Linked DNA regions of Homo sapiens. The protein of the gene in region 3 interacts with the protein of the main gene of each other region in a pairwise test. Each region holds a gene or a part of one and is shown on either strand. Other genes may lie near its edges.

Region 1 (7,775 bases), about 130 Mb from region 3:
AGGTTACTAATTTTGGACCACATTTCTCATTCCTCATTTTGCTTACCCAGGAGCAGCATTTGAATGAGTTCACCAGTTTCTTCTTGCACCTCTTCTCTTTTAGCTTTTATGATGCTTCACTCTCTGGGTTTCCTCCTGTCCCTCTGTCTACTCTTTCTTGGTGTCTTTTGCAGGCTCATCTTTCTCTATCCAGTCTTTAATAATGACCTCTAAAAGTCTGACTTGATCCTTCATTTGTTCTTATTCTACACACTCTAATTCTGTGGTTTGCATTACTTCCTATATGATCTGTATATTTAGCTTCCTAATGGAATTCTACTTAGGTATCTAATAGACATCTGAAACTTAATATGTCCAAAACAGAACAGATTTGATGGTGGGAGTTTCTCTGTGCTAGTTACTATTTTCTCTATGAAGTTGGAGTCTAGGTTGAGAGTGAAGAATGCTCTGTGTCTCTGTGTGTGTGTGTGTGTGTGTGTGTGTGTGTGTCAGGGTGGGAGAAGAAATTAGAGATTTTATGAGACGAGAAAATTTAAAAACAATATTGTGTAAAATGAGAGAAAGAAGGTAATCAGGGAAATTTGGTAAGACATCTACTCATTCTAAGCAGCACAGTATGAACAACTGAATTCTGATTTCCAAAATCCCTGACTTTGACTTCTGGCTCTTTCACCTAGTAGCTTTGTGGCTTTGGGCAAGTTACTTAAACTCTCTCTAAGCCATAGTTTTTTCATCTAAAATAGTGATCAACAATATTGGACCTAAATTCATGGTTCTTCATGAAGATTAAATGTACTTACAGGTAATGTGCCTTGAACATCATAGGTGATCATCAAATAGTTTATATTGAGTTACCAGAAACCTTATTCATTTTTTATCTCATCCTTCTTTCTCACCCTCCACATGCAAATTATCTTTAAATTCTGTTTCTACCTCCTAGATAGGTCTTAGATCAATCTTTTCCACTACGTCCATGACTTTAGGTCAAGCCACTACCATCTCTCACCCAAATTACTGTCATAGACTCCCAATTGGTCCCACCTTTTAAGTTGCTCCCCACACTAACTCCACTGCAATCTTTCCAAATCTTTCTAAATCTTAACAAATTTCCAATGCTCCCAATTCTTCCTTGCATGGCTTGCAAGAGTCTGCATTTGCTGCCTCATGAGATAGAAGGTGTATGATTTGTCTGTTGCTGTTGTAATAAATTACCATGAATGTAGTGGCTAAAAACAACACCCATTTATTAGCTCACAGATCTATTGGCCAGAGGTCTACACAGTGTGGCTGGGTTCTCTGCTCAGGGTATCAGAAATCAAGGTTTCAGCCAGACTGAATTCTCTTCTACAGACTCGGGGGAGGACTGAAGTCTCTGTTCTTTTGCTGGCTGTCAGCTAGAGACTGCTGTCAACTAGAGGCCACTCTCAGGGCTTGTCCTGTGCCCTCCTTCACCCTCGAGCCAGAAAACAGCCACCATTCGTTCCTTGCCACATTATCCCCTCCATCTTCAAGCTATCAACAGTGTGTTGAATTCTTCTCATTCTTCCAATCTCTTTGATTTCCTCTTCTGCTACCAGCAAGAAAAAAAGAACCCTTGGCTTTTAAAGAACTCATGTGACTTGGTTAGGACTAGCCAGATAATCTGTCTATCTTGAGATCAACTGATTAGTAGAATTAACTCCATCTGCAAAATCCCTTTTGCCATATAACATAATTGTGGGAGTAGTATCTCATCATATGCACAGGTCCATCCACACACAAAAGAAGATTATATAAGGGTGACAGTCATTGGTGGTCATCTTCTAATTCTGCCTACCCAAGGAGAGGAAGCCAGGGGAAATATCCCTGAAGAATCGTAGCTTGAGCTGAGATCAGATGGATGAGTAAGTGTTAACTAGGTAAGGAAGGAAAGAAGAAGCTTCCAGAGAGCATATGGAAAAGTCATGCAACTGAAGGACATATAGCAAAAAAAAAAAAAAAAAAAAAGAAAAGAAAAAAGAAAAATAAAAGAGAAAAAAGAAGGAGTGACCAAAAAAAGGCTAATGTGTTTACAGTGGAGAGAATAAGAATCATTGTGACTCTTATTTGAAATAATGTGATTTGAAATAATGTGGCTAGAGAGGTAAGTGGGAGCCAGGCCTCACAGGCTTTCTAAATTCTGTTAATATGTTTTCTCATTCCCAAAAGCAAAGGTCAAAAGAGTGGGATAGTCAGATTTGTATTCTGAGCATAGTACTTCGGCTTTAAGGTGAAGTATAGATGTAGAGAGGCATCAGTAAAATGTGGTGGCCCATTTAGGAGGTTAGGAGTGTGGTTCAAGAGTAGGGTAATATCAGTGGACATATAAGCAGGCAGATTCAAGGAACACTCAGTAGCTAAAATGAACAGGACTTTGTGATTGATTCAATATGGGAGTGATGTAGTTATGTTCCCCAGGAAGCAGACTCTCAAACAAAGATTACTGTGGAGGATGTTTACTAAGGAGCGTTCTTGGAGTTAACACCTGTGCAAGAGAGAGGATGAAAATAGGATTGGGCAAAAGGAGAAGCTGAGTAGTAATTCAGTCCCAGCAAAGACCTCAGTCAACCATATGAAGGGTTCTAGGGGTGTGAGCATCTTTCAGAGTTGTCCACCACTGGGTTGAGGGGATTAAACTTTTATACCTCTGTGCTGATCGGTCATTGGATATAGAATGCCCAAGAAAGGGAGCATAACCTTGGATGAGCTGGCTTTCTTCTGCTTAGGCAACTCCTGAAGGGTTATGACAGCTGAGGGCCATCTTTTAGGAGCACTCTCCACAGCTGGAAAATAAATCCTCCATTTTTGAAGAGGGTTCTGGGCTTTGCATCACAGCATCCAGCGCAGGGGTGAAGGAGCATAGGGGAGTAAGGCATCAATAATAATTCCTAAATTTCTGATTTGTACATCCTGGTGGGTGCACTTAACGACCATATATTACAATCATTGGCTTGCTTGGGAAAATCCCACTAGAGTAGGTGCTACTGAGGGGCAAACTATATTGGACAACTAGTGCATACCCCTAGAACTGGCATAGTTTGCTAAATAAGTGAATGTCCATCTATTTCTATTTTCACTCCCCTCTCCCTTACATCCTTTGCTCCCTTCCCTCCTCATCGTACTGTCATCCAATGTGGGAAAACTTGAGCAGGTTATCTGAGGCCCCACCTGTGCTGGAGCGGAACAAATAGCAAATCAAGCTCCTCTGGTCCAGGCTCTCTGATGGGCAAGACAGGCAGTACCAGGAGGAAGGAAAGGGGGAGCAGTTGATGACATCTCAGGCATAAACTGTCTTTCAACTCTCTTTCAATGCTTCAGCCCCTATAAACTCAGGGCTGGCTGAACCAGGTCCTCTCCAAAAGATTAATTGGATAAGGGCCTGCTGAATCCCCCATAAAGCCAGACTCCATTCTCTAATTTGCTCTTCCACTGATGCCCGCCCCCAACCTCTTACAGCTACTGCTGGGGGTCAGAAGAATTTCACATCGTATTGGAGTTCATCCGGAATCTGAAGAATGGATAGGAATCTGGAGATAGGAATCTGGAGATAGGAATCTGGGGAAGAAAAGGAATGGATAGGAGAATGCATAGGGAGCAGGGCTGAAATAGTAGAAGAGGCAAATCCTGCCCCGAGAAGCTGAACCCAGTTCAGTCCTGCACCCTTCAGCCCTGTTCCCGCTGCACCGCAGTGACCCAGTCCCCTTCTAGCCCCCTCTCGTGGGAACCTGACACCCTACACAGGCAGCTCTGCCTGCACTGAGAGCAAACAGGGAGCGTTAGCGTGTCGGGTGGGCGTGGGCGCTGCCTGGAGACGGTGGAGAAAGCCAACCTTCTCCTTCTCTTTTGCCTGCGCTGGGCCGGCGTTAGAATTATATCCCATCCTCACCTTACTCTGGTTTATCCTTGTCAGTGCTTGCCACCACCCCCAACTGCCCTCAACACTCAAGTCAGAAGCTTCCTCCCGGGAGCCCTTTTCCCTGGCAAGGCTTCCCTGGAGCCAAATCTCGGCCCCGGCCCCACCCCCACTCCCGCCCAGCTGTGGAGGGCTCCTTGGGACCCTTAAGTGCAAGCCTGAGTGTTAAGCCTCAGACAGGAGATGGAGGGTGCGGAGACAGATGCAGGAGCTACCCCAGGCCCGCAGCGAGGAGCTGCAGGGAACTACGGTAGCAATAGTGTCACGGTCACTGCGGCCACTGCAACACAGTACGGTAAATGCGGCTCTAGGCTCAGACTAAAGCATCCGCGCCTCAGCAGGTGACGCACGCAGACCTGGTCTCCAACGCCACCTCCACGTTCCCTGATACACCAGAGAAAGATGCTGGATCCGTGGCAGCCGTCTCTACCCAACCCCTCCTACCCTCCCTTCCCCGAAACCTCCCCCTACGCTGCCAATACTCTTGTCTTCAATCTCTCTCTCTCTCTCTCTCTCTCTCTCTCTCTCTCTCTCTCTCTCTCATTCCTGGGAATCGGGGGTGGGGGCGGGTGATAAAGAGAGGTGGGCAGGAGAGAAATCTCTAAGAGGAGACGGGACACATCTAGGGAGGGGGCGAGCCTGGAGGACAGTCGCACAGGGAGGGGCAGAACTCCCGAGCCAGGGAGGGGGTGCACAGTCACCTGGCGGGACAGAGGCTGGCGGAGGGACGGGAACCCAGGCGGGGCGAGCCGCGGGAGAGTGGAGGGCAGGCGCCTGGGCTGGGGGCGGGGACCAGGCGGGGCAGGGGGCAGGGAGAGGAGGGCGGCGGGAGCCTGAGCCGGAATCGCAGCGTGAGCAGGTGGAGCCGCGTTGGGAGCCCGCCGGGTCGAGCTGAGTAAGGCGGCGGGCTCGGCGGGGGCCATGGAGCTGCTAAAGCTGAACCGGAGCGTGCAGGGAACCGGACCCGGGCCGGGGGCTTCCCTGTGCCGCCCGGGGGCGCCTCTCCTCAACAGCAGCAGTGTGGGCAACCTCAGCTGCGAGCCCCCTCGCATTCGCGGAGCCGGGACACGAGGTGGGTGCCTCCCTCAGCCCCCCCCACAAGCTATTTCTCACTGTACCCCAGAACACTAATAGAGTCCCCCCAACGAGCTCCACACTACCTTCTCAAACGTCCACACCGTGCCTCTCATAGTACTCCCTCAGCCCCCAAACAGCTCCCCTCACACCTTCACCCCCACAGCCTACAACTTCATCACAGCTTCACACCACCTGGTCGGAACTCCTTCACATCCTGGTCCCCTGAATACACCTAGAGCCCCTGCTCACCCCAAAGCACAGCCCCTTCCCCAACACGCAGCCCCTCCTAGACACCAGTCAGAAGGCGAGGACCTCCTCTTGCCAACCCTGCAGATCTCCTTTTCCCTCTTACATCCAGTTCACAGAGCCACAACAGAGAAGGGAAGGAAGAAAGGAAGGCAGGACTGGGAAAAGAAGGGGGCTGGTTGAGGGAGGGAGCACTCTGGAAAGCTTGAATGCGAAGCTGAAGTTGTGATCACATCTGACACCCCAGCCCCCAGCCATCCCAAAAAAGATCCTCAAATCTGAATTAGGCTGGACACTAGGGGATGCTCCTTAGAGCTGCCTGCCTCCATTTCACTCCTTCTCAAACCCCTCTGCCTCCCTAGTTGGAGCTTTCGAGGCTCTGTGCCCTCTCTCTTTGTCTGCAAGTAATGTCTCCAGCTATCTTCCAAGCTCTCTCTCCAGCCCTAGGCTAGGTGCTGGGGGCACAGGGCAAACTAGACCCAGTCTGGACCCTCATGGCCCATAGCCAAGTGCAGAGAGAAACCAAGCAAATGGAAAAATCACAGACACAATGGAAGTCCCATGAAAGGGTCTAAACTGTGGGCACCAAAAGAACTTCACAGAGGCTAGAACCTTAGAGCTGGGTCTTGAAGTTGAGTAGGCAGAAAAGGAAGGAGTGGGATTCTAGGTGAAGGAGCAATGTTAAGCAGAAGGAAATTTTTCTAAACTCAAAAAGGGAAAGTTGGAATAAATTGTAATCCAAGTATTTATTTACCCCACGAAATAATCTATGCTTTCTCAGCCGAGTTGTTACACACTCACACTTGGATTCTGTCATTCAGCCAATATTTATTGAACCAGAGATTGTGCTAGGCAGTGGGAATGTAAGTTGAACAAAACCGACACAATTCCTACTTCACAGAGCTCAAAGTTTAATGGGCGAGACAGAAAAGCAGGGGATTGCAGCACAAAGTGGAAGAGCCTTGACAGGGAAAAGATAGTGGGAACACAAGTGGAACACCTCTAGCCCAGCCCAGCCTCCTTGAGAATTAAAGTTGGCCTCTTGAGGAAATGAGCTACAAAGTCAAAAAAATTAGGGAGGCTGGCTCTAAGCTTCCTGTTGGCAAAAAAAAAAAAAAAAAAAAATATATATACACACACACACACACACACACACACACACACACACATATACATATGGGAGAGCCAGCCAAGTGAACGGGCAGAAGAGGCAGAAAGCATCCCAAATAAAAGGACAAGATGTATAAGAAGCTCAAAGTTTGAATTCATGGCACTTTTATCCACTGTGACATAGTTTTGAGTGACTAGAACATATATCTTAAGAAGGGAATAATGAACAGGCTGGAGACCAGCCTAGAGGGTTTGCAGAGAGCCTGCTAGGCCTGACCATGGAACATGGACTTTCTCCCGAGGGCAATAGGAACTACTAAAAGATTCGGTAGTACTACCAGGATTAGTTCTATAATGTGGAGAACGGATTGGAAGACATAAGATGGAAGGCAGGGGGATACTTTACAAGGTTACTATATTACACTGTTCTGGGTGAAAGATGATGCTAGCTGAGACTAAGGTAATGGCAAGGGAGATGGAGAGAGGTGGATAGATTTGAGAGCCTCTTCTGGAAATGGAATCAACAGATTAGAAGCAGAGAGGATGGAAGAGGTCAAGGGATGACATTCAGATTTCTAACTTGGACAACTGAATGGATATTGGTGCTATAGCAATTGTATACAATGAGAAAGATAACAAAACAGCAGAAACAGGTTTGGAAGAGGGAATTATAAATTCAGTTTGGAACCCATTGAGTTTAAATGTTAGTGGGGCATCCAGGTGAGGTTACCTAGTAAGCTGTTGAATCCAGGGGTCTGGAACTTACAGGAGAGGTCTGAGGTGGAAATACAGACTTGAAGAAGGTCTTTGCCTACAGGATGTAGAAGCCCCGAGAATAGTTAAAATCATAAAATTTTGTATAGAATGAGAAGAAAATAGGTCCTAGGTCAAGACTCTGCATAAGACCATTATTTAAAAGCCAGGCAGAGAAAGGAGAATTTATGAAGGAGATTCAGATGAAACCATCAGAAAGGCAGGAGCTACGCCCTTCCAGAAAGCAAGAAAAAGAGAGTTTCAAGCAGGTTGGGGTAAGTGATATCAAATGCTATTGACATAAGTTACATAAATAAAAAACAGGACAGTCAGAACAGCATCCTTCACATTCAATAACAAGAAAATATTTAGGAGTTGTAGGTATTGAGGCTTGACTATGGTAGGTTAAAGATTGGACTGGTGAGAGAAGGAGTTATGAGAAGTGAACCAAGGTATGTAGCCAAAACTTTCAAGAAGTCTGGTAGGCAAAGAAAGAGAGAGAGAGAGAGAGAGAGAGAGAGAGAGAGAGAGAAAGAAAAGCAGGATATTGCCAAAAATAGCATGAGATTGAGGAAGGGGGGAGTGGGTATGTGCATAGGTTTGTTACGTGTGTGCGCGTGTGTGTGCACGCATTTTAAAACAAGAGCTTTTTAAAATG
Region 2 (7,335 bases), on a different chromosome or scaffold from region 3:
CTCAACCTCTCAAAGTGCTGGGATTACAGGCATAAGCCACTGTGCCTGGCCTCAAAGCACTTAATATATTTGTTTTATTTTTTTAAATTGGACTTAATATATTTAATTTTCACAACAGTCCTCTTAAAAATCCCACTTAGGGAATTAAGGATCCAGAGAGGTGAAGTCACAGGTATAAAGAGAAATAGGATATGTGGTAAGCCTGGAACTGGACTTTGGTTAAAAAAAAAGAGAGAGGAAATGGAGCAAGGATTTGAACCCAAGCTGCCTCAAGCTTCCAGGGACAGATGCCACATGACAGCTGCCTCTCCTGTTGTTCATCATCTGTAGATCCCCTGCTGCCTGCCCCCCACCGTCTGGGACAGCAGCTGAACCCCGTGGTGGCGCCGGCCTCTCAAAAATTCCGTTAGCATTTCCCTAGCCTGCCCTCAAATTTTATGACTATTTATTTATTTATCTGAGATGGAGTCTTGCTCTGTTGCCCAGGCTGGAGTGAAGTGGTGTGATCTCGGCTCACTGCAACCTCTGCCTCCCGGGTTCAAGCGATTTTCCTGCCTCAGCCTCCTGAGTAGCTGGGATTACAGGCACAAGCCACAACGCCCAGCTAATTTTATATAATTTTGGTAGAGATGAGGTTTCACCATGTTGGTCAGGGTGGTTTCGAACTCCTGACCTCAAGTGATCCGCCCGCCTCAGCCTCCCAAAGTGCTGGGATTATAGGCGTGAACCACCACGCCCGGTCTCGATCTTTGACAGGGATATTTGAAACTTTCTCCCAACATAAAGGATATGTGAGTGCGGACTGAAGAAGATTCTGGCTCTCTTTCCAATAAGGCTGCCTCTCACTAGTCGATCCTGGGTAGAAGTTCTGGAGCTGCCACAGCTCAGGGTGATGGCTTCATGTCACACTGGACCGCATCCCTCCTCGGCTCCACATCCTCCTGTGGCACCCACCTCACTGGGAGTAAAAGCCAGCCTTCTGCATGGCTCACAAGGCCTTCCACGATGTGCCCCATCACCCCTCCAATGTCGTCTCTTGCCCCTCTCCTCTCTCACTGACCTCCTTGCTATTCCTTAAATATTCCAAGCTTGCTCCTACCGCAAGACTTTTGCTTTTGCTGTTCTCTTTGCCCAGCATGCTGTTCCCCCAGAGGGCCATGTCACTCTTTCTTTCTCTCTCTCTTTTTTTGAGACAGAATCTCGCTGTCGCCCAGGCTGGAGTGCAATGGCGCAATCTCAGTTCACTGCAACCTCCGCCTCCCTGGTTCAAGCGATTCTCCTGCCTCAGCCTCCTGAATAGCTGGGATTACAGGTGTCTGCCACTATGCCTGCCTAATTTTTTGTAATTTTAGTAGAGACGAGGTTTCACCATGTTAGTCAGGCTGGTCTCGAACTCCTGACCTCAGGTGATCTGCCAGCCTTGGCCTCCCAAAGTGCTGGGATTATAGGCATGAGCCACTACGCCTGGCCGTTTTTTTGTTTTGTTTTGTTTTTTTGTTTTGAGACAGGGTCTCCGTCTGTTGCCCAGGCTGGAGTGTATTGGCAAAATCATGGCTCACTGCAGCCTCGAACTCCCAGGCTCAAGCGATCCCCCCACCTCTCAGCCTCCCAAGTAGCTGGGACCACAGGCGCACACCACCATACCTGGCTAATTTTTGTAGAGATGGGGTTTCGCTATGTTGCCCAGGCTGATCTCAAACTCCTGAGCTCCAGCGATCCACCTTCCTCAGCCTCCCAAAGTGCTGTGATCACAGGCGTGAGCCACCGTGCCCAGCCCTACTCTCTCTTCTCCTTCAAGTATTTGTTTCAAATGTCACCTTCTCAGAAAGCTTTCCCTGACCACCCTATTTAAAACTATAACCTTGACCCCACATTCCCCATGCCCCTTCTAATACATCCAATAATCTACTTACCTATTTACCCATTGCCTCTTACCCCCACTAGAGTGTAGTACACAGTCCATAAGGCCAGATTTTTTTTTTTTTTTTGAGATGGGGTCTCACTCTGTCACCCAGGCTGGAGTGCAGTGGTGCGATCTCAACTCACTGCAGCCTCCGCCTCCTGGGTTCAAGCAATCCTCTCACCTCAGCCTCCCGAGTTGCTCAGATTTTAGGGGCGCGCCACCATGCCTGGCTAATTTTTGCATTTTTAGTAGAGATGGGGCTTCACCATGTTGTCCAGGCTGGTCTCAAACTCCTGGTCTCAGGTGATCCACCCACTTCACCTCCCAAAGTGCTTGGATTACAGGTGTGAGCCATTGCGCCAGGCCGAGATATTTTTGTCTGTATTGTTCATTGAGGTATCCCCAGTGTCTAGCAGTGTTGGGCACATATATAGTACATGCTTAAGAATTATGTGCAGAATGATTAATTTGTGTTTTCATTCCCATATTGCAGATGCAGTAACTGAGGCGCTGGGAGGTTAAGTTAGTTGCCCAAGATCATGCAGTTTTTTTTTTTTTTTTTTTTTTTGAGACGGAGTCTCGCTCTTGTTGCCCAGGCTACAGTGCAATGGCACGATCTAGGCTCACTGCAACCTCCGCCTCTCAGATTCGAACGATTCTCCTGTCTCAGCCTCCCGAGTAGCTGGGATTACAGGCATGTGCCACCATGCCTGGCTAATTTTGTATTTTTAATAGAGATGGGGTTTCTCCATGTTGGTCAGGCTGGTCTCGAACTTCCGACCTGAGGTGATCCGCCCGCCTCGGCCTCCCAAAGTGCTGGGATTACAGGCGTGAGCCACCGCGCCTGGCCTATTATTATTATTTTTTTTTGAGACGGAGTCTCGCTCTTGTTGCCCAGGCTGGAGTGCAATGGCGCGATCTCGGCTCACTGCAACCTCCACCTCCCCGGTTCAAGCCATTCTCCTGCCTCAGCCTCCCGAGTAGCTGGGATTATAGGCATGCACCACCACGCCCGGCTAATTTTGTATTTTTAGTAGAGACGGGGTTTCTCCATGTTGATCAGGCTGGTCTCGAACTCCCGACATCAGGTGATCCGCCCACCTTGGCCTCCTAAAGTGCTGGGATTACAGGCATGAGCCACCGCACCCGGCCGAGGGTGACATGGTTAATAACAATATTAGCCAAAAACACCATGTCAAGCTGAGCCTACCACAAGAATAAACTCACAGAATCGTCACACTCAGCCCTGATGTGGATGTCCCCGTGTGCATTTTGCAGATGAAGCTGGGATTGGAAAGGTGCCATAAGGCAGTCAAGGTATCCAGAGGTGTAGTGGTGGGGCTGGGATTCTGACACACCCCAGGTAATGGGCTGCAGTACCCCGTATGTTATGTGAGATGTGACACGGGGAAATGACGAAGACACGGAGGGAAGAAAAATAACTGTAAGGCTGGGTGGCTCCTTATGGGGAAAACTGGAAGCATGAGGAGTGGATGGTGACTGGTCAGAGGAACAGTGATGCCAAGGGAGGGACAAAGACACAAGGGGTAATGATGACGTAAGAGTTGCATTAGCGCGATTTAAGAAGAGCGATGGGGACAGTAGCCATGCGAAGGTGACTTGGGGGTATGATGAGGGTTTAAAGAGAAATGAGGATTTTATAAAGGAGAAATGGCAACAAAAGCAGGATGCAGGTAACATATGGCGATGACGAATTTAAAGGGAGCGATTACGACCTATGGTGGCAAAGAGGGCTTACAGGGAACGAAAGCGAGTTAAGGGCGTTGATGACAACAAGAGGAGTTGTGAGGATTTAAAGAGGGTGATGGCGACAGAAGGAGTTGTGAGGATTTAAGTGGGATGAGACAGAAGGAGAGGAATGGTGACATAAAGAGACCGAGGACGACATAAATTATAGCGTGGAAGACAACGCTATAATTATATATATTATATTCCATATATTATATTCCATATAATATATATTATATTCCATGCATTATAGCGTGGAAGACAACACGAGGAGGGTAGCCGAGGCGCCGCGCCCCCAGATCGCACAGTACCTGCACTCCACGTCTCCCACTCCGAGACCCAGCCCCACACGCACCTTCCAGGCTGTATCCCCGCCTGACGGCCCCTCCTAGCCGCGCGCAGGCGCACTACGGCTAGACTGCAGGCCGGCGGGGGCCAGGCATGCGCCTTTCTCATTGGCCGCGCCGCTTGCTAGCTTCGGGCGGAGGGGAGCGCCGGGCCGACGGTGGGCGGTCACGTGACGGTTACGACTGCACTCTCGCTGGTGTCGGTGGGCGGTCACGTGATGGTTATGGCCGCACTCTCGCTGGTGGCGGCCTGTTGGGGTAGAGCGGCCGCGGACGAGTCAGTTCAGCTTCCGGCGGTGAGAGGATGCTTCCGGGGCGGGCAGCCCGGGCCGGGGGAGGAGTGTCTGACAGTTGGCGCCGCCGGGAGGGAGGGCGGGCGGCGCGAGTGGGCGCGGGCCCGGTGGGCCAGGTGAGGCGCGGGCCGGGGGTGGTGGGACTGGGCCGGTTGCGGTAGGGACGGGTGGCGTCCGGGTGTCTGGACTCAGTTCGGGCTCCGTTGTACGGCTTCGGACTTACGATTTGTTTCTTTGAGCCTCAGTTTCCTCCCCTGTGGAATGGGGGTTAGAATCCGACTGTATCACCGGCTTTATAAATGGGAGTGAGAAGTCAGGTCGTGTACGTTGGATGCCTTAGCTCAGCGCCTCCGCATAACGCTCACTTCGTTACTATACTATTATTATTAGTATTGATGTTTGAGCGCTTAGTATGAAAAATTGTTGGGTTTGGAAGCCGTCGAATTTTGGTTCAAGTCCCGCTCCACTGTGCGGCAGTGGGGCCTGTGTCTTCGCTTCCTTGAACCCCGTTTTTTCTCATCTGTACAATGAGAGCAGATAGTCCCAATATCATAGGGTCGTCTTGAGGATTCTGATGAAATCTGTGTGTGTAAAGATTTTAAGCAGAGGGGCTGGCACAGTGAGAGCTCGTGGATTGGGACTATAATGATAATGATTCTGAGAGTCATTGGTGTAGCTGGGAATTCCAGGGAAGCTGGGGGAGAAAGCTCAGAGACAGCAATAGGAAAAACTTAGAATTGGAGCCGGGGAAATCGACATCCTGTCACTTACTATTTGACCAATTTTGCTGAGTCCTGAAGTACTAGTTTTTTTCTTTTTCTTGATAATGACTAGTGCATTTTTTTCCCCAGTAAGTTAATTTGAGAAGGCAAATTTGCATTGCTGTCTTCTTCTTTTTTTTTTCTTTGAGACGGAGTTTCGCTCTTGTTGCCCAGGCTGGAGTGCAATGGTGCAATTTCGTCTCACCGCAACCTCCGCTTCCTGGGTTCAAGGGATTCTCCTGCCTCAACCTTCCGAGTAGCTGGGATTACAGGCATGCGCCACCACGCCCGGCTAATTTTTTTTGTATTTTAGTAGAGACGGGGTTTCTGCATGTTGGTCAGGCTGGTCTCGAACTTCTGACTTCAGGTGATCTGCCCGCCTCTGCCTCCCAAAGTGCTGGGATTACAGGTGTGAGCCACCGTGCCCGGCGCATTGCTGTCTTCAATGGAAAACTAGCATTGCTGGCCATGAGAGGAAGGAAAAGTTCAGGTAAAATACAATGGAAACTGAACAGCCCATTACATTGTACACTGAAATGGAAAGATAATTGAAAAGGAATACTACGTATTCCCTTTGAATAGGGATACTGTTCAGAACCTGTACTGTGTGATTCCCTGTTGTCAGATCCCATGGACCCCCATTAAGTTGTCCTTATACTTGTTCCCAGCTCACACTTTGTATAAAACTAGCATTAAGTCAGTGACTGTCCCACTGTTTCCCTAGCTTACTGAAGATTTGTTTTATTTGATGCACACTTAACATCGCACTTAACCACCTGCCGTGCATCTTTGTTCTAAGGACTCTGTTTATTAACTCGTTTAATCCTTGTAACACCTTTAAGAATGGGTCCTTGGCTGGGCGTGGTGGCTCACGCCTGTAATCCTAGCACTTTGGGAGGCCGAGACGGGCGGATCACGAGGTCAGGAGATAGAGACCATCCTGGCTAACACGGTGAAACCCCGTCTCTACTAAAACTACAGAAAATTAGCCGGGCATGGTGGTGGGGGCCTGTAATCCCAGCTACTTGGGAGGCTGAGGCAGGATAATTGCTTGAACCTGGGAGGCAGAGGTTGCAGTGAGACGAGATCACGCCACTGCACTCCAGCCTGGGCGACAGAGTGGGACTTCATCTCAAAAAAAAAAAAGGGTCCTCTTTTTTTTTTTTTAAGATGGTGTTTTTTTATTTTTATTATTTATTTATTTATTTATTTATTTATTTATTTATTTATTTATTTGAGACAAGGTCTCGCTCTGTTGCCCAGGCTGGAGTGCAGTGGTGCGATCTTGGATCACTGCAACCTCTGCCTCCCGGGCTTAAGCAATTCTCCTGCCTCAGCCTCCTGAGTAGCTAGGATTACAGGTGCCCACCACCACGCCTGGCTAATTTTTGTATTTTTAGTAGAGAGGGGTTTCACTATGTTGGCCAGGCTGGTCTTGAATTCCTGACCTCAGGTTATCCACCTGCCTCAGCCTCCCAAGGTGCTGGCCAAGAATTGGTAATCTTACTTTTTTTTTTTTTTTTGAGATGGAGTCTCACTCTGTTGCCCAGGCTGGAGTGTAGTGGTACAGTTTCGGCTCACTGCAACCTCTGCCTCCTGGGTTCAAGTGATTCTCCTGCCTCAGCCTCCCGAGTAGCTGGGATTACAGGTGCCTGCCACCATGCCCAGCTAATTTTTTGTATTTTTAGTAGAGGCGGAGTTTCGCCATGTTGGCCAGGCTGGTCTCAAACTCCTGACCTTGTGATCCACTGCCTTGGCCTCCCAAAGCGTTGGGATTACAGGCATGAGCCACTGCGCCCAGCCACCTTTCCTTTTTTTTTTTTTTTTTTTGAGACTGAGTCTTGCTCTGTTGCCCAGGCTGGAGTGAAGTGGCGTAATCTTGGCTCACTGCAACCTCTCCCCCCCCCGCCCCGGGTTGAAGCGATTCTCCCACCTTAGCCTACTGAGTAGCTTGGATTACAGGCATACACCACCATGCCTGGCTAATTTTTGTATTTTTAGTAGAGATGGGGTTTCACCATATTGGCCAGGCTGGTCTCGAACTCCTGACCTCAGGTGATCCACCCGCCTCAGCCTCCCAAAGTGCTGTGATTACAGGCGTGAGCCACCACGCCCAGTTTTTTTTTTTTTTTTTTTTTTTTTAACAGTGACAGGGTCTCGCTATATTGCCCAGGCTGGCCTCAAAATCCTGGGCTCCAGAGATCCTCCTGCTTCGGCCTCCCAAAGTGCTGGGACTACAGGTGTGAGTTACTGTACCCGGCCTTACCATTCTTATTGTGCAG
Region 3 (7,024 bases):
TGGGCTCATGTAGTCAATTAACATTGACCATGAATGTGAATTCATCCAGTCCCTGCTTGGACCCAAGTGAAGGTCAGAGCAGTGGCCACCCTTCAGATTATTAATATAAGCTATCCTAGATACATTACTAGCAAAGCAAGCTGCAAAGTGTGTTTTTGTTCTTGAGAGATTTCAAACTTATGTCGTTCCAAATTCATGTTTCAGACAAGGCAGTACCAGATGGCAGTCATGGGGTCTGCAAGGAGCATAAGGGAAGGTACACCCTTAGGTGTAGTAAGAGAGGTGCACCCTCTATCGACTGTAGTTTTCTCCTTCTTGCTCACCCTCAGAGTCCATTCTGGATATTGTCATCAAAGCCACAAGAAAGGCTTGGATCAGTTCAAACTTCATGTGCATTCAGGTTACCTGGACATCTTATTAAAATGCAGATTCAAATTTCTTATCTCTGAGAGGAGACCTGAGTTTCTGCATTTCTGATGAGCTCCCACCCAAGTGATGCTGATGTTGGTGGTTTGCCAGCCACACTTTTGTGTAGTGTGGTGCTAGCTCAGTGCTTCTTAAACCCTAATGTGCACAAAACTCATGTCTAGATATGAACTTCTAGATGTGACTCAAGGAATGACCAGGGGCCATCAGCTTTGGCATTACCTGGGAGCTTGCTAAAAATGCAGAATCCAAGGCCCTACCTCAGACCTACTGAATCAGCATCTGTACTTCAGCGAAATCCCCAGGGGGCTCATGTGCACCGTAAAGCTTGAGAAACATGTGGAGCTGGCTTCACAACTTTGTTTATTTCCATAGAAATCTGTGGTTGGTTTAAGGCTGTGTTCTCACCACCTTGAAATCCTTATTCATGCTTGAGCAAAATATTCTGTGTTCTTATTTTGCACTGGGCCCCATAAATGATATAAGTTGTCCTAGACACACTGCTCCATATTAGTGGTTTTGAAACATTAGTGTGTGTATGACCCAACTGAGATGTTGTTATAAATTCCCAAATATTCTGAATCAGTAGACTGGGGGTGAGACTAAGAATCTGTAATAAACCTCTCCTGTGATTCTAATATAAGTAGTCCATGAGCACTTTGAAAGGTAGTCCCCAGATCTTCTCCAAGCTAGGCCTTCACTCATTTCCATGCTGTATCAGGATGGTGCCAGAGAGAGCCCACCTCTCATCTGCATTGCCAGAAAATGCAATGAGCTGCAAAAAACTTGTTGGACACCTGTGCCAAGGTGTTTCTTTTTGGGCAGTATTTCCCACAAGAACTCTCAGCAAACTATCCCTGTGCACCTAAGTGATCCTTACATAATGTTGAGACATTTACATAAGCAAAGCAGAAAGGATGCACAGTACAGGATGTCTCATGGGGACAGGGGGTCTCCTGAAGAAGCAGGTGTGTATAGTAGCACTTGTTAGAATTTTTATGGTCACAAACCATTTTGAGAATCCAATAGAAGCCATCACCCATCCTCAATGAAAAATTCACCTTTGCACATTATGAGTCTCACATAGTACCAGGAATTAGAAGACTTGACTGAGAGGTCTGACTTCTATACTTCTAGCTCTCATTCCTTGGACAAGTCATCAGGCTATTCAGAACCCTAGTGTCCTGATCTTTAAAGCAGAGAATGGGTAAGAGTGTCAACCTCATAAATTTGTTGCAAAACATCAAAGGAGACATTGAGCTGTAAAAGTGCTTTGTACACTGCAAAATAATGTATACATTTGAGACATCATTATACATCCTATGCTACATTGTTATTTCCAGCATTATAGTCAGGATCAGGACACTGCTTGTAAATTTAGCCTAAGGCCATGGAACAGACTTGCTGTAGTAAGAGAGGGAAATGAATACAGACAGAAAGACATGATGAGGACTTGGCGAGAGTTGCTGGGAAATTTAAAAGTGTAGAAAAGAGAAGGGAGATTCCACAATTCAAGGACTCCAGATGCAAAAATAAAAGAAAGAAAATCTATTTTTATATGTGCAGACAGTTTTGAGATTTTGGAAAGTGGCTTTAGTCTAGCAGTTAACCGAACATTTCTGCCCCTGGGTATAATGAAGATGAATAGCAATAGTGGTGGTCTGTATTTAGTTTTGACTGCAGAAGCCTTCTGTGGGAATTTGCTATTCTGAGATGAGAGGAATGATGTTTAGTAGTTAAAAGCTGGGTCTCTGATCTAACACATAATTATTGTGTGACTTGGAGAACTAGTTTAGTTTAGTTTCTCTGCTCTTCTAGGCTTTTTCCAATAAAAGATTCTTCATAGGGTTATTATAAGTATTGAATGACTTAGTGCACCCTAAACAGCTAGACATAACTATGAAGGATTATCATCACCCAAATCCTTGAGCAAAGGGAGAACTGGTAGTATTCGAAGTATCCAGCCATCCTGGGCATGCAAGGTACCTCTAGGTTATAACTGAGATCGTATTTGAAGTGGTTCTGTGCTCAAGTGGTTTGAGAAGCTCCGAGCAACATTCTGAGGCTGTAATCCCATAAGACCTTTGCTGTGTTCCAGAAAAGTCCACCCCTGACAAATCAAAGGAAATGTATGTGTTGGGGGAAGGGAGAAAGACAAGATATTCTAGCCTTGCCATGAGGACCTCCCTCTGATGGCTGCTGTCGTCTCTCAGTCCCTTGACGTACCTGTCTGGTCTTCCCTTCAGGTGCACTATTGACAACCGGGTCACCCGGGTGGCCTGGCTAAACCGCAGCACCATCCTCTATGCTGGGAATGACAAGTGGTGCCTGGATCCTCGCGTGGTCCTTCTGAGCAACACCCAAACGCAGTACAGCATCGAGATCCAGAACGTGGATGTGTATGACGAGGGCCCTTACACCTGCTCGGTGCAGACAGACAACCACCCAAAGACCTCTAGGGTCCACCTCATTGTGCAAGGTAGGTGGGCGGGGCTTGGCGGGGAGATCTGGCTGGCCAGCCTGGAAAGCCTTCAGGTAAAGGTTTGTTCTCTGATCCTCAACAGAGATGAGTTATCCTTATTCTACGCATCTGGGGTCCAGGGCACATTTCTGGTTGTCATTTTGCAGTTAGAAGCTAAATTTTCCAGTCATTTTCATTGAGTGGAACTAGGAATTGTTTTTTTCATTTTTGTTCCAATAATATATTTTCTCAGGAAATTATCTTGTAATTATTGCTCTTCTTGGCTTTTTTCTCCCCTAAGTTTTAGTTATTTTTGTTTGTTTGTTTTTTGTTTTGTTTTGTTTTGTTTTTTAGATTTCATCCAATTCCAAGACTGTGTTATGTTTAAAACCAGACTTTTAATGCACTTTTGGAAGTACAGGTATGCCATGTCCCCCTCCAGCCTTGAACGAAAGCAGAGCCAACCAGGATGCACTGGGCACTGCCCTCAGCTGCATCCTTCACAAGCACCTGCTTGTTTCCAGCTCACTTGCGCCTCCTCTCCTCTCCCAGCCAGGGGTTTTGGATGCCATTTCTCCCATATAATACTGGTGTCTGATTCTCCCTGTTTTGATTCCATCCCAACTCTCCTGGCCTTCTTCTCCTCCCCTGACTCCTAGTTCATGAGGCCTTGTATGTTTGTGTGTGTGTGTGTGTGTGTGTGTGTGTGTGTGTGTGTGAGAGAGAGAGAGAGAGAGAGAGAGAATATGTGTGTTGGTTATGCTCTCTTAGACCCTGGGAATGGAGCTCACCTCTTCCCACAAGGCAGAACCAGTCCTGGGGCATTCAGACAACACTTAACCCGGTTGAAGGATTCCTAGTTAGTGAGCAAGAGCTGGCATCACACTTGGCCACTTTCTGGCTGTGAGACCTTAATCAAGTTATTACCGTGTCTCAGGGTTCTCTTTCTGTAAAGGGGGTCAACGTGAGGATTGAACTGTAAACGTACTGACATAGAAAACACGTAGAAGAGGGCGTGGCACATACAAGTGCTATTTCAGTGTTAGCTATGGAGCTTTCTTTTCTCTTTTTTAGGACTTTTGTAATTTTTAAAATTTTTGAGCATCTTTTACAGTGGGTCAAATATCTTATTTTGTGATGTCAGCAGTATAGCCCCTGAGCAGCGGCATGCCAGATCCAGTGCTGGAGCCCTTTCCCAGGCTGATCCCGAGGCCCTTTCAACCAGGGACGTGTAGCTCCAGGGTGACAAACTCCTCTCCTAGGGGCTCCTTCCACCAGTCCCCTTGTCGGTGTGTTCAAGAAAAGGGTAAAGAACTATGGGATGATTGGTTAGAGACAGAATAGGAAGGAAGGCAGCTTGAGAAGGAAGAACTGAAGTGAGCCGGAAGAAGGAAGGGGAGGCCTGCTGTTTGACAGTAGGGGAAGGCGGAACTTGGGTCGTGATCAGCACTGTTGAGTGAGGCAGGGTGAGCAGGACTGAGAGGAGGACACATGAGAACAAGGTGATGCTGGACCTGGCTGTGGGCAGAACGTATGCCAGGGGACATGGGAATCCTTGATGCTGTGGCCCAAGTTTGGTCATGCCAAGTTTTTATTATATTTTGCTTACTCTTTCTTCCCCAAAGGAAATTACAATGGCTGTTTAAAAAATGATTCTATAAATGAATACTTTTTGAACTGATGCATGCAAACAGCAATTTTAAAGAAAATAGAATTGCATAGAAGGTATCAGAGTGTATTACAAAGAGTGGAGTAGGTATTGCCATGTGAGATTTTTGTTTCAGTTTGTGTACATTTTTTAATGTAAAATACATTTTTTATTATGGATAGGGAGGCCAAAAATGCTTGAGAATCTCCACTCTGTGGGCAGGGCTGGTGAATGCCCTGGTGCCACCATCTGCATACTCTACCAGGTGGTGGTTTGGAAGCTATTGCTCAGCCCCCCTCCTGTCCTGCCCCAACCCCTGCACACTTAGTGTTGAGAAAAGAATGCCTAGCATTGACAATGAGAGACTGGGAACTAGGAACTATTAGAGATATTTGCTTTAGGAAGCAGGGCCTCATGGAACTGGAAAGTGGAAGGAATTGTGAAAAGTGCTAATGTCTCCTTGAAAACTGGATCATATTTTTGTCATTTTCTTTCTTCAGCCACCCCCACTCACACACACCCCCACACCCCTGCCCTGAACACCTCGCAGAATGCCTGATACAAAGTGAACATTTAATAAATGCTTATTGAAGCAAATGGCTAGAATTAGAGCCAGGTGATCTTATATGGGCTCCAAGAGAGACGGCTGGGTGTTTTTGGGGGTGAGATGATGGGAGGGGGTGAGAGGATGGAGTCTACATCAATCTTCACTCACATCCAAGCTAATGGAAAATGTCTAATCCCTTGCTAGGTGTTTACATCTGTGACTTAGCTAGGTGCCCTCTCGCATGACACACCACCTCAAGTATTGGAATCTCATCTTGGGCTAATTTTCGAATGCTGATGGGTGTATTGATCTGGAAACAAGCTGGGTTAAAAAAGGCATTGGTCTTTTACACAGACTCAGCCCAAGCTAATCCGCTGTCGATATGCCTGGACTGAGTATTATCGACACTTTAATGAATAGAGGACCATAGTTTTTTCAGAGCCAAACTGACCCCCTCTTCAAAGCGATCAGACAAACTAAATAGAGCCAGATTCTTGTGTTTCTGTATTGGAAAGAGGATGCACCACCATCCTGGATTACAAAAAAAAAAAAAAAGGGAAAGAAATATATTTATCTTGGGATCGTTTATTATACCAAACATAAACCCTAATTCCCCTAGCAGAAGCTGACTCTCTGGATTTGAAGTTGCTATTCAGCCCTGAGCTTCTGGAATAAAAGTTGGGCATATTAGGTTTTCAAAATGGTATTATGATCCTTTAAAAAAAGAAATAAAAACAGCAACAACAAAAAGGAACTAAATTGATATTCTGCCCATGAGTATGTGTATTTATGTATATGTAGTCACCTTCATATCTAAATAAATCCACACAGAAGGAAGGTAGTGGCATCTCACAGCATTGCACAAGCTGCTTCAGGTCTGGGGTATGTCTTTCCCCTTACTGTCAAATATCCCATCTACCCCCTAGTTCTCTGTACTGGATTTTCTTCCCCTGTGGTTCTGATCCAATATGGTTATTTCTTGCAGACAGCCGTGAGGCCAAGGCGACCACATGGAGCAAGTCTCTGGGGCAAGCTAGGAGCAAAGGGCATCCTGGGGGAGGAGGGTGACCCTGGAGCCAGTGTGGGAGGGAGATGGAGGGGGAAGGCGGCAGAAAGGAGGAGACAAGAGAACTGAGCCAAGTAGCTACTTGCCAGGGTGGCTATTTTAAATTAAATTTAAATTAGCTACAACCAAACAACATTTAAAATTTACTTCTTCAGTCACACTAGCCACACTGCAGTGCTTCCATAGTCATGCAAGACTACTGTTCCCTTGTGTTCATTTTGCATTACTATAAAGGAATGCCTGAGGCTGGTAATTCACACACATAAAAAAGAGGTTTATTTGGCTCATGGTTCTGCAGCCTGTACAAGCACAGCACCAACATTTGCATCTGGAGAGGGCCTCAGAATGCTTCTATTCGTGGCATGGCGTGAAGGGGACCCAGTATATGCAGAATTGCATGGTGAGAGAAAAAGCCAGAGACAGCAGGGACGGTGCCAGGCTCTTTTTTACCACCAGCTTTCGAGAAAGCTAATAGAGCAAGAACTCACTTGCCCCACCCCCTGCATTTATCTATTTATGCTCCATCCCCATGGCCAGACATCTCCCATTAGGCCCCCACCTCCAATTTTGGAATCAACTTTCCACATAAGATCTACGGGAACAAATACCCAAACTACTGCACTCCTGTGTTGGACAGTGCAGAGAGAGAACATTTGTGTGAACTTCCATTGTAAAAAGCTTTATTGGATAGTGCTATAAGGGGTTACCATTATGGATCAGCAGGTGTTAAAGCTAGAATGGCTTTCCATGGCTTGAAGGGCTAGGTATATTGTGGAAAGGAGAGTGGAATTTTGGAAAGAGAATGGAAATTTTAAATAGATGGTGCTCTTTTAAAAACAAGAGAGAATTGTTGAAAAAGATGGAGTAATGGATTTC
Region 4 (7,024 bases), on a different chromosome or scaffold from region 3:
CCTTTTTGAAAGTTCTGAAAAGCATAGCAAATGAGAAACAGCTGCGACAACTAGGAAAGACAGGAGTGACATGAAGGCTTCTGTCAAATACATGTGGAGCCACTGTTTGGAAAAGATAGTTGGTTAGTTCTGAGACTCTGAGAACAAAGCTAGGAATGAGTGGAATTTAAAAGCACTTTTTCCAATTAGGGCCTCTCTAAAATAGAATGGGATGCCTTTAGGAGTGATGAGCCTCCTACTCATCTGTTCTTTTCAATTCAATGAATATTTATTAATGGCCTAACGTATTGCCATTCTTAAAGCTGGGAATACATCAGCGAAAAAAATAGACAAAAATTATTGCTCTGGCATCTATATTTTAGTAGGGGTAAATAAATAATAAAACAGTAATAAAATAATAAAAATAAAAAACAAATTAGCAGCATATATATTATATATCAGTATGTTAACATGTGAAAGAGAATGGGAAAAGAGTAGAATAAAAGAAATGAGGAATGAGAGGAGATAGGGAATGGGACAGGCTCAGTTACAAATATGATTGTTAGAGTAGGTCAGCCTCATTGAGAAGGTGACTGCATTAGTCAGGGTTCTACAGAGAAACAGAACCAATAAGATATTTTAGAGATATTTAGGAGAGATTAATTATGAGGGATTGGCTCACTCAACTGCAGACACTGGGAAGTTCCATGATCCACTATCTGCCACCTAGATGCCCAGGAAAGCCAGTGGTGGAGATCCAGTTCAAGCTTGCAGGCCTGAGAACCCAGGGAGTTGTTGGTGTAGGTCCCAGTCTGAGTCAGAAGGTGTGGGAACCAGGAGCATTGATGTCAAAGGGCAGGAGAAAGTGCAAGTTCCAGTTTCAGCAGAGAGCAAATTCACCCTTCCTGTGCCTTTGTGTTCTATTCGCGCCTTCAGTGGATTGGACGCTGCCCAACCACACTAGGAAGGAAGGATCTTCTCCTGTCTTCTACTGATTCAAATGCTCATCTCTTCTGGAAACACCCTCGCAGGCATATCCAGAAGTACATTTTGCTAGCTATCTGGGTATTCCTTAAGCCAGTCCACTGGACACATAGAGTTAACCATCACAGTGACATTTTAGCAGACTTCAGGGAAGGATGTGGGGTAGTGATCTCAGGGAAGAGCATTCCAAGGAGCAGAAAAAGCCATGAGAAGACCTGAAGCGGGGCTGTGAAAGCAAGGAGTATTCCCATGGAGTATTCCGTCTCTGAAATGCTTGAGACCAGAGGTGTTTCAGATTTCAGATTTTTTGGGATGTTGGAATATTTGTACAGACATAATGAGGTATCTTGGCAATGAGACCGAAGTCTACACATGAAATTCATTTATGCTTCTTATATACCTTACACACGTAGCCTTAAGGTAGTTATATACAATATATTAAATGATTTTGTGTGTTTTGACTGTGATTTGTCACATGAGGGAAGATGCGGAATTTTCTACTTGTGGCATCATATCAGCACTCAAAAAAGCTTTGGGTTTTAGATCATTTCAGATTTCAGGTTTTGGGATTAGAAATGTTCAACCTGTATTTAAGCAGAGCTTGGCAGAGCATTTCAGAGAGAAGTTGAAGAGAGAATTTCTGCTTTTGGTATAAACTAGAACTAGATAACCTCTGATGAGTCTTCCAACTTCACATTCCCTGAGTTTATGATCCTCTTGTAGCTGGGAATGATGAATTTGGTAGCAGCAAGCAGCATGGGTTCAAGACCAGAGGTGCCAGACCAAGACTCACAAATCCAAATGGTAAAGAGGCCAGACAGATAGTATAAACATTTTAAAAGATTGACAATACATTCAAATATTTTAAACTATTGTGTAACCAAATAAAGCATGTTTTCAGGCCAAAACTTGCCTAGTGGCCACCACTTTGAGACCGTTGCATTAGAGAAAGTAAAATCAGTTTGGTGTGTAATGGTGTAATACATATATAAAGTCTTAGGCAGGGAGTCAAAGGAGAATAAATGATAAAAGAAGAAATATGGGAGTCTTTGATGAGAACTATTCTTTGTTGTGATTTGCCAGGAAGCCAAAAGAAAAGAGACAATCAAAGATTACTTTGTAGTGTAGAGCCCAGGAGGCCAGTTTACAATGACTTTGCTCTTCCCCAAGCAAAAGTCATATTGCTTTTTTTCCACTGTTTCTATGGCTAGATACTGATTTGTCCTTTCATTGTCTTATTATACATAATTGCATAGCATTTAGGAACATAAAGTTCAGTTAGAGGGAGAAAGATAAACCAATGCAATGTTTTTCAATTATTTTGTGTCTACAGAGTAATTACAATTATCAAACTTTTTGGCAGAGGCTCAGAATGGACTGATAGTGATAATTACAAAGACACAGATGAAACCTTTATTCTTTTTGTTTTGATGTATGATTTGTCCTATTTCCTTACTGCAGGTGCTTTCATTTGCAAGATGGTGCCATTTGTCCAGTCTACCGCTGTTGTGACAGAAATCCTCACTATGACCTGCATTGCTGTGGAAAGGCACCAGGGACTTGTGCATCCTTTTAAAATGAAGTGGCAATACACCAACCGAAGGGCTTTCACAATGCTAGGTGAGGCCACTGGATGTGCCAATGGCAGTGTGAATGACATTCTTCATTACAGAATAGAGAACCATATTTTTAAACTAGAAGAGTAGCTTCTTATCTAACTTGTAGGCATTGGAATATAATTTGAGAGTTTCAGTGCTTTCCCTGTTTGCCTTCATCTCCACACCATCTCTCTTTTAGGCTGACCTCAAAACTGAAAATGTATCATTTTGGGTATACTTTTTCAGTTTACATCTTAAACGTTTAAGCACTATGTTCAGCTAATCTAAGATAACCTACCAGTGGCATTGCCACATTAACACTCATTAGATTGAGAACTATCTTTTTTTTTTTTTTTTTTTTTTTTGAGACAGAGTGTCAACTACATTGCCCAGGCTGGTCTCAAAAGTCTGGGCTGTGATTACAGGCATGAGCCACTATGCCCAGCTGGGAATTATCATCTTGAGATAAGAAGACTCCAAGCCAAGCTAACAAGGGCAGGTCGATTTTTTTTTCTTTTTTAGATAGGGTCTCATTCTGTAGCCCAGGCTGGAGTGCAGTGGTGTGATCACAACTCACTGCAGCCTCAGCCTCCCAAGCTCAAATGATCCTCCCACCTCAGCCTCCCAAGTAGCTGGGACCACATGTGCCCACCACCACACCCAGCTAATTTTTTTTATTTTTGGTAGCAACAGGGTCTCTCTATGTTTCTCAGGCTGGTCTTGAACTCCTGGGCTCAAGCCATTCCCCCTTGGCCTCTCCTTGTACTCCTTGGCCTCCCAACATGCTAGGATTACCGGTGTGAGCCACTGCACCTGGCCAGGCAGGTTGATAATGATAGGGAGCAGGAAATGTGGTTTTAGAAAAGTGGAGAACAGGGTTGCTGCCCTTGTGGTGAGTACACAAGGGTAGAAAGTGACAGGGTACATGAGAACAGTGGGTTCTGAGTGCTGGGGATGCCTGGCAAAGGCACATTCCACCCACTTCATACTTTTCCTTTAGGCATTTCTGGATCGTCAGCTTGCTGTAATTGTTCCTGAGTCAGCAAGTCACAATGAACACATACCTCATGATAAATGGTAAATTTGAAGCAATGCCCTAAAGTCTAACACAGTAAAATGGAAGCATTTCTCTATTCAGTAATTATAATTGAGCCATTTAAAACCTTAGTGTGCTTCACAGTAGTTTGAATTTAATATAGCAAATAATCAGAGGTGTAGCAAGCAACTAATGTGATAATCAAATAAAGCAATTTTTACTAATATCTCACTTGAGAAGAATGAGTAAACATTTATTTCTGCTGTAAGAATTTAGCCAGTATTGGGCTGTGGAATTGCAGAAAGAACCCCTGCAGGCTTTGCAATGCCAAAGTCATTTTAAATAGCTTGAAAATAATAGCTGAATCATTAGGGGAGAAAGGTGTTAGTTTTAGTTAGTTAGTTTTAATTTTATGTCATATCTTTCCTACTAAGAATTCAGAGATTTCTGGGCTTTTAATAATTGACATCTTTCCAACATCAGAACTCCTGAAAACAGCATGTGGGGATGGAAAGCAAGTAAGGAAAGGATTACATGGAGGAGGGGAGTTATTTAAAAGGAAAGAGAAGTAGCGCGAGTGACAACATCTCAAAGCATAGTTGATAATAGGCAGTCAAGGCAGTTCCTACTCAAAAGAGACATAGGAAACAAGAAGGTTTTAAAATCAACTAGACTCATCTCGCCATGGGGGCTTTTGTGAACTGTGGTCTAATGTCTCCTGTAGCTTTGTCACACTGTCATTCAGCCTTGTCAGTCAGTGTTTGTCAGTCACGCCCCATTCCTCCTTCCAGCTGAGATTGCCTAGACCTAGACAGGGGATGTCAAATCTTTTCGCTTCCCTGGGCCATATTGGAAGAAGAAGAATTGCCTTGGGCTACGCATAAAATACACTAACACTAACGATTGCTGATGACTTAAAAAATATATCGCAAAAAAATCTCATAATATTTTTTAAAAGTTTACAAATTTGTGTTGGGCCACATCCGAAGCCTTCCTAGGCCACATGCAGATTGGACAAGCTTGGCCTAGGTCCTCTAGGCTTTCTTGCCCAGATGTGGTCACTGTGTCAGTATTGTTCATCCAACTCTAGCCCTTCTATCTCAGAACCATCCAGGGATCCAGGAAGGTAGTCAATGAGCTATGAAAATTAGACTCAATTCCTCCAGAATTTGTACTAAAGCCCAGAAAAATGATTGGACATAAGATAACTATATGTGATTAAAATAGAACAGATGTGTATGGTAATAGGGAGGCAGAAAAGAGAAAGAGAAAGAGCGAGTGAGAAATAGAGACAGCCAGACAGACAGACTTGTGAGTCCTACAGCTGCCAGGTATCATTGGATCATGATGAATTTTTATAGGCAGCACCAAATTATGTGTTTCTTTATAATAAACCCCAATTATGGCTTAATTGAGTCATTGAAACCCAAAGCAATAAACTGTTTTCTTAATGTTCCACCCAATATAGAAAGAACAAGCAGAGTTCGAGCTGGAAACTTTTCCCCCAAATCAAAGTTGGGGCCCTTGGTTCCGTCCTCTTCCATGTCTGTTAAAACACACGGGTTGAAATTGTTCTTGGTAGTTAATCCCTGTTTTTCTTTTCTAAGAGTACATCATTAAAGCAATCCCTCTCAACAAGTTCGTGGAAGACAGGAAATTTGGAAAGAGCATTTTGGTTTCTGAAGTTATCAGTGTTTGTTTTCTTTTTTTTTTATTATTATACTTTAAGTTTTAGGGTACATGTGCACAACGTACAGGTTTGTTACATATGTATACATGTGATGCCCATGTTATGGTGCTTAAGATAAATGTACATTTGATTTTAAAAAGAGGTGACAGAGAGTGGTCTATGTCATGTTTAAAAGTTATTCATCCATTCCACCAACATGGATCAGCTCCTACAGAGGGCCAGGAATTTTCCTAGGACTCTTATTTGAGGAAACACAAAAATAAATGGCATTGTGTTTGCTTTCAAGGAGTTTGGAGGAAATTGAGAAGTGAGTAAGGGCAACGAAGACACTGCACTAGAGGGCATGTAGAGACAACAAGGAATTAGTAGTCAGTTTATTTGGAAATAGTAGTGACCTTCAAAGTTTCCCTAGAGAAGGTGATTTCTGAGTCAAGTCCTGGAAAATGAGTCCACAGATAGACACTGGGGATAGGGTGGCCAGGGAGTGGCGCAGTGCATTCTGGGATACGGAAACTGAAACCAGCACTGCAGGCTCCTCAGTAGAGGACTGCGGTGTGAAGAGCATGGACAGAAATGAAAGAGGAGAGAGAGGCAATTGAGATGGTAGAGAACCTCATGGGCCATGCTAAGGAAACTGGGTTTTATCTTGTAGGCAGTGAAACACTATTAAATGTTTAAAACTTGTTTTAGGAAGTTTATTCCAGCAGCAGTTTTGAGGATGGTGAAAGAGTGGAAGCATGAAACTTGGGGGAGACCATGGCACTGCCCTAGGGCAGAGAACAGCTGCCCTCTCATAGGGAATCTTGAGGGTTAGATAATTATGCATGGATGTGTTTTACTCAACTGAGTCATACTCTCATGACTTTAACACTTTTACAGGTGTGGTCTGGCTGGTGGCAGTCATCGTAGGATCACCCATGTGGCACGTGCAACAACTTGAGGTAGACTCCAGTTGAGATGTATAATCATATTGTTGAACTATTTTCTCACCCCTCTTAATTGTAATTATTTTCCTTCCTGCAGGAGCAATACAGCAAATTTGTATGACCTCAGCTATTCCACTGGAGGTCTTTTAAGTGGAATAAAATGATTTTTTAAGGTTCATTTTCTCTGTTTTATCTAGCTCTTCCTGATACATTGTTAGGACTCTAATGCTTAAAATACAATTTTTCAAAAATACACAGGTCAGTTTCTACATTTTCCTGCAAGCTGAGTATGCTTTTCCCAGTGTCCCTAAATGTTTTCTTACATTTTAAGAGTTGAATGATTGCTCTAGGTTTTTCTTTTATTTTTAAGTCACGTAAAAAAAATTGTAATAAATTATCTACTTAGTTGACTCTCAGAAGTCCTTTCTTACCTGCCTCCTATTCATTGACACATTGAAATTCTAACTGGAAACATATCAGGAGATCATCTTAATCAACCTCTCTCCTTTCCCCACACCTTTGTCAGACAGGCCCAGCCATGTGTGGGGCTTCACAGGAAGGAGAGTGCTGAGTTGGTTTCAGACAGCCCAGCCTGTCTGTTAGGGTGGACTTTAACATGTCTTGCATAGGTGATCTACCCAGACAGGAGTTTTCAAAGACGGTAGGGGGTTGCTTACATACCCCCTAAGATAAGTTTTAAATGATTTATCCCGTTCTACCTTTTAAAGTAGAGATAGGCAAATGTGAAACTTTACTGTCCATGTCATGTCATCCTCAAGGATAACAAATGAGCCTAAGATAAGAGAACATT

Evidence for each region.
Region 1: the proteins of NTM (region 3) and CCKBR interact in binary tests that used the Homo sapiens proteins (3 or more experiments, as listed by UniProt).
Region 2: the proteins of NTM (region 3) and C19orf47 interact in binary tests that used the Homo sapiens proteins (3 or more experiments, as listed by UniProt).
Region 4: the proteins of NTM (region 3) and QRFPR interact in binary tests that used the Homo sapiens proteins (3 or more experiments, as listed by UniProt).

The regions. Positions count from the first base shown.
Region 1 is NC_000011.10:6,255,077-6,262,851, forward strand, and holds the start of CCKBR (gastrin/cholecystokinin type B receptor), read left to right. Parts: upstream 1-4,761; 5' UTR 4,762-4,852; coding exon 4,853-5,003; intron 5,004-7,775. UniProt on the Homo sapiens protein: Receptor for gastrin and cholecystokinin. The CCK-B receptors occur throughout the central nervous system where they modulate anxiety, analgesia, arousal, and neuroleptic activity.
Region 2 is NC_000019.10:40,345,397-40,352,731, reverse strand, and holds the start of C19orf47 (uncharacterized protein C19orf47), read left to right. Parts: upstream 1-4,334; 5' UTR 4,335-4,408; intron 4,409-4,442; exon of another isoform or gene 4,443-5,543; intron 5,544-7,335.
Region 3 is NC_000011.10:132,143,610-132,150,633, forward strand, and holds part of NTM (neurotrimin isoform 9 precursor), read left to right. Parts: intron 1-2,672; coding exon 2,673-2,905; intron 2,906-7,024.
Region 4 is NC_000004.12:121,336,011-121,343,034, reverse strand, and holds part of QRFPR (pyroglutamylated RF-amide peptide receptor), read left to right. Parts: intron 1-2,424; coding exon 2,425-2,583; intron 2,584-6,166; coding exon 6,167-6,228; intron 6,229-7,024. UniProt on the Homo sapiens protein: Receptor for the orexigenic neuropeptide QRFP. The activity of this receptor is mediated by G proteins that modulate adenylate cyclase activity and intracellular calcium levels.